Linked DNA regions of Homo sapiens: region 2 is linked to region 1. A link means that fine-mapping ties the variant in region 1 to the expression of a gene that starts in the linked region. Tissue or cell type: cerebellum. Region 1 holds a variant in brackets; the other region holds the start of a gene. All regions are shown on one strand. Distances are between the middles of the regions.

Region 1 (2,752 bases):
TGGGGAGGGCGGCAAGAGCAACAAGAGTGAACACAGAAGACCAGGGAGGGATGGGAGGCCTGAGGTGGCTTTTATTTGTCTTTTCTCCCACAAAATTACATTCAAGTGACCAAATGAGCCAGCCATCCCCATGCTAGCAGCCCATCCTTTAACTCAGAGAGAATTCCTACCACTCCCAGCCACTAGTCTGCCACCTGCCCTTAGCCAGTCCCACTGTTCTGCAGCCTCACAAGTTTTTCAAATTTCTGGCCTCTGCCACTGTGCTGTGTATGAGGAGGGATGGGGAGAGAAACTACCATTTCGTGAGTACCTACCACCCAACTGTGCTTAAAAGCTCATGTGAATAGAGGGTGGGTATGTGAAGGGAGAAGCAAAGTAGCTGGGAAAGGGAGGGAGACGCCAGATTGCAGGGAGTGTTTGGACATCAGCCCTGGGCAGCAGGCAGCCATAGAAGGTTCTGGAGTAGGAGACCTAATTGAGGCCAAGCTGCGTGGACTTGGGAATCAGAGAGGAGCTGTGGCAGGAGCCAGTAGGCGGCAGCAGTGCTCCCAGGAGCAGGGTCTGCACAGCTGGGGAAAGAGAAAGAAATGGGAGTGGGGATGAGGGCTCCTTAGCAAAGCACCTCCCTGGTGAGATATAAGTCAAAGGTGTGGTTTCTGGGTTGAGGCACCGACAAACCCAGGAGCTCTGGAGTGGGGATGGAGCAGGACATAGCCCAGGCTTCCCCACCCACGCCCAGCCACTCCTGCAGAGAAGGGGCCGCTGAGGTCTCCTGGGAAACCTCGTGAGGGTGAGACCAGGGAGCGCATCAGGGGTCTGTGCAAAGCCTCAGTAATGCCCCCAGGTGGGGCAGGGAGGAGGCGAGGAGGGTCGCATGTTTCCCCACCGCGGGGCGAAGGGCAAGGGGAGTATCAGGGCCCAGGTCAGCAGTGTGGCAGAAGCGCTGCCAGACAAGGGGCGGATGCCTTGTTGGCCTGCTGGGTGGCCACTGGCCCTCATCCCTCTCTGGGCCATCTCCTCCCTGCCACACACAAAGAAGAGGTGGACAAGGCAGTCCTACCAAACGTTTCTGGCCCCCACATCCTGTGGTGCATGGCGATGGCCATCGGCCCTTCCTGCCATCAAGGACCCCTACCCTAAAAACCCTGCAGACAGAGTCTGGAGCTGGACTTGCTGCTTTCTGGTTGCCTTTTGCTAAAAACAAAAGAAGAGGAAGAGGGAGGGGGGCTGGCTCAGCCCC[G/A]AGAAACCCCATTGTGGGAGCTGTTGTCTTTGGCTGTGTCCCCACAGCAGCCCTGAAGCTCAGCTCATGTTCTGTAGCACCTGGTCCTCCCTTTCCCAGCCTGTTCCCAGCCAGCAGCTCCCCAACCCCCAGCAAGCTCCCTCTCCCCAAGCCAGCAGGGGGCTGTGGGGAGTGGGCTGTGGGGAGTGGGCGGGGCTGGTCCCAGCAATGCCCAGACATGCGACTGCTTCCTTGCAGGTGGCTTTCCGTCTTGATTTTGAGTTCAGCAAATCCATCTTCCTACACCACCTGGAGATCGAGCTCGCTGCAGGCAGGTCAGGGCCGTGCCTGCTCCTTCTCCCCAAAGCTTGCTATTCCGGGGCCCAGCTCTCTGGCTGCTAGCAACTGCTCCTCCCGACACTGAGTCCGCTGCCCCACGCCCTGTCCCCCACTGCCCCAACCTTGAGTGGAGGCAGTGGGGTGGGGAGGTGGGCCGGCATCCGTTGCAGGTGTGGGCCAACCTGCTGCCCCCTGTGTTGCCACCACTCTTCATTCTTTGGATGATAAATAATAATGTCAGCCCTTTACTTTTAGACAGCCCTGTATACAGCAGTAATTCACAAACCCTATGGTTATAAAGCATTGTACAGGCAAAAATCTCAGTCCTCACAGAGGCCCCTTAAGATCATCAAAGCAGGGGTTATTCCACACACCATCTTCCAAGTTAAGAAAAGAGAGGCTCAGAGAGGGTGAGTGAATTTCCCAGGGACACACAGCAGTAAATTGTGCAGCTGGAAGCTGAACACTACTCGTCCTATTCCCCATCCAGGGCTCTTCCTGTCCTAGTCACCTCTCTCCCCTTTTTCTATTTTTAAGAGGCCTTTTCTTACTCTATGTGGGTCTTCCTGTCTATCTGTCTGTCTGTCTCCCAGGCCTCTCAGAGGTAGCTTGCTATGTGTTGACCCCATGAATCACTTTGTGTCAGTAGTAAATACACTTCTCTTTTTTGCAGAATTACCTCTGTGTGGGGAAGGACAGAGGGATTGTGTCCACTCTGGAGCCTTATAAATGGCAAAAATCCTTAGCTAAGAAATAAATACCCCAGGCAAACCGAACACTAACATTCCAGCACACACACGTGCAGGTCAGAGGTCACATAAGCGCTGGGGACTCATACCCGACACGTGCTCGCGTCCCAGCTACAGTTAAATGAATTGTGCATCCTGGTAGAATTCTCACACACCACGTGGCAAACTTGGCAAGGCCTCCCTTGCTCTCTGCCCTGCTCTAAGAAAGCCCAGTCCCGTCTTCACAGGAGAAATGAGCGCGCTTGCAGAGCAGTGTCTCTGGCACAGCTGTGGGGGGTGTCTGAGAATTAGGTGTGTGTAGGAGGGGGCTCTGGAGGCACATCTGTGTGTGTTGGGTCTCCCTTTTCTAACCAAACCCCTATCCTGGGGTAAGGCTTCCAAAGGGAATCAAACTCAGTCTATATAACAAGCAAGAACTGTACATTTTTATGTCTAAAATGATTTG
Region 2 (2,500 bases), 120 kb before region 1:
AACATCACCTCCTCTGGGAAGCCCTTCCAATACCTCCCAGATAGAAAACTCTATCCTTTGTGCACCCACACACCACCTGTACTCACCCATCCATCCACCCGCCCACCTACTTTGTTCCTGGGTGTTAGGGGCTGAGTACTCCATTGTGAACCAGAGATTTCTACCCTGATGGTGTTTTCAGTCTGCACAGGAGAGAAAAGTTAAATGATCACACCAATTGATGCCTTGCTTCTCTACTAAGCACAATGAAGAGAAATGAGGGAGAGCGGGCTGGGGAATATCAGCATGTGTCTGGGACTCAACCTGGTGGGGACGGGAAGAGGGGGTGAAGGAAGCCTTTCCTGAGAAAGTGGGGGAAGGGCGCTCTGCTGTGGCTTTCCCTGCATCTTGGCCTTCCTACCCTCTGCCTCGGCTTCCTCCATTGCTGGAAAAGCCTCCACAAGCGCGGTGGAGGTCCGGGGCCTGGATTTAAAGCTCTTGAGATAAATGTGCATTGAATTTAACTACCAGTGATTAGAAGAGGGAAAGAAGGTGGCAGGGTTACAAAGAAGAGCTTCACGTTAGGTTAAGAGGGGGTGCACGGTGTCCCTGGGTGCTTTGGAATGCCTCAGGTGTGGAGGCTCAGGGAGTGGCAGTGGAGGCGAATCTGCATGTATTCCAGGGTCAGAAGAAACACTAGCCTCTACAATTCAAGCCGCAGGGTGCAGGGAGACACGGGGATGTCTTAGAATGGACCTTTGAGGGACATCCACTCACTTGGCCAAGGGAGACCTGCGTTCCAGCAGGTGTTCCTGAGCCAGCTTGGGTACCCTCTGAGTTTTGTGAATCTCTTTTCACTGGGAAATGGGAATAAAAACCACTTTTCCTGAACAGAATCTGACTGAGGCGGTGCGGTGCTACACTGGTGAGGGGGTTCCCAGGAGCGGTTCTCTGGAGTTTTCTCCAGAGGCTGACGTGGGGTTGGCGGAGAAGGAGCGCTGCACAGGCGCGTCGAGGCAGCGCGCCGCCTGCCCAGGTGGCAGAGCGGCCGAGACTGGCCCAGAGCCCGAGCCGGAGTGGTGTCCGGCGCCCCTCCCCTCCGCTCGAGCCCTCCCACTTCCTCTGAATGAGCCGCAGCTGTCAGGGAGCCCGGCGCCCCGCGCAGTGCAGGCTGCAGGCGCCGCGCCGAGGAGGCTGCCGCTCTGGCTTGCCGCCCCCCGCCGCCGCTGCACACCGGACCCAGCCGCCGTGCCGCGGGCCATGGACCTGCCCAGGGGCCTGGTGGTGGCCTGGGCGCTCAGCCTGTGGCCAGGTAGGTGCCCACCCTCTGCCTCCCCTTGCCTCTCGGAGTCCCTCCCTGGGCCCTCGGGGCTTGGATCCAGCGGCCAGGATCGGGACGCGACCCTCCTCCCAGGGTCAGACCTCAGCTGCTCTTGGGGACGTGGGTCCCCCAGGGACTGGCCCCAGTCTAGCGGTTCAGTCAAGTTTCGCTAAAGAGGGAGGTGCGAAGGCTATTGAAAGCCGGGACTCTTTGGTGTGTTTGGGAAGAGTTGAAGAGGCTTGAGTTGAAAAGCTCCCAGATCTGGTGGCCCTCCTGGGCGCCTTAGGTGCCTCCAAGGCCCATGCCGGGGTTCCCGCACGGCTGCCAGGGGCACTCGGGTGTCCCGGGAGCGCCGAGGGCGCACGGCCCCGGCTGGGGAAGGGAATCAGCGCCAAGAGAGTGTGCCCTGGCTGCCCTCCTGCCTGGCTCCGGGGAAGCATCTCAAAGTTTGGAGAGCCGGGCGCGGCGGCCCCGGAGGGCTGAAGGGTGGGGGTGAGGGCTGCGCAGAGTGCCTCCGGCCAAAGACAGAGCAAAGCCCCGGGGCGATGGCCGGTAGGCGGGGGCTAGCTCTCGTCTGCCCGGCCAGCAGCGGCGGGACACAGTCGCGCAGCGCAGGACCCCCGAAACGTTACCTGACACCCGGGGTAGGGACCCGGCATTGCCTCCCAACCCGCGCTCGGAATTATGCAATTATTCAATAATCTGGGGAAAGCCGCCGTCGCCTAGACGCGCGCCGCCGCCTAATGCACTCCAGGTGTCGGGGCGCGGCAGGAACCTCCGGCCCGAGGGGCGCGCGGCTGGGAGCGGGAAGCCAGCCCTGAGCTCTCCGCCCTAGGGTACCCTGGCCCCGGCCGTCCCACACCGGGCTCCCCGGCTCCACCCTCCACGCGGGGCGGCTGCCAGTGATGCTGTTCTGCGGAAGACGGCCAAGTGCTCCGGCAAGGGCCAGCGCCTCGGTTACTGGCCGGGTGTGGGCGCTCAACCTTGCCTCCCCTTCTGCGTGGGCTCCAGGCCCGAGCTGGGGCCAGTAGTGGGGGTCAGATGCGGTGGTAGTGGGAGAGGTGCCCTCAGGGAGCTCAGGTGGAGACCCCTATCCCGCAGCCGCTTGCCCCAGTCCCCGGGTACCACGCGAAGCAAGTCCACCCTCCTGTCGGCCTACAGAGGAGCTTCTCAGAGGGCCCATGGTTGAAAGGGCCTCTG

Alleles and levels. Alleles are on the strand shown, and positions count from the first base shown. SD is a standard deviation of normalised expression in the study named.
For the expression in cerebellum of the gene that starts at base 1,143 in region 2, G is the low allele of the variant in region 1 and A is the other (large effect, 1.7 SD a copy in GTEx).

The links. PIP is the estimated chance that this variant, and not a neighbour inherited with it, causes the effect.
Region 2: ITGA11 starts here. The variant in region 1 is fine-mapped to the expression of ITGA11 in cerebellum (GTEx, PIP above 0.99). The same link has a PIP of 0.9 or more in cerebellar hemisphere.

The regions. Positions count from the first base shown.
Region 1 is chr15:68,314,453-68,317,204 of GRCh38, reverse strand. ITGA11 (integrin subunit alpha 11) reads left to right here. Exons shown (of 30, transcript NM_001004439.2): 22 at 1,478-1,554. Among named protein-coding and RNA genes, the nearest start is that of FEM1B, 38 kb to the right of the region's middle. RefSeq lists an enhancer at 1,275-2,141. The variant G/A (reference allele first, on the strand shown) is at 1,241.
Region 2 is chr15:68,430,806-68,433,305 of GRCh38, reverse strand. ITGA11 (integrin subunit alpha 11) reads left to right here and starts at 1,143. Exons shown (of 30, transcript NM_001004439.2): 1 at 1,143-1,291. The coding sequence starts at 1,240. RefSeq lists an enhancer at 1,983-2,500.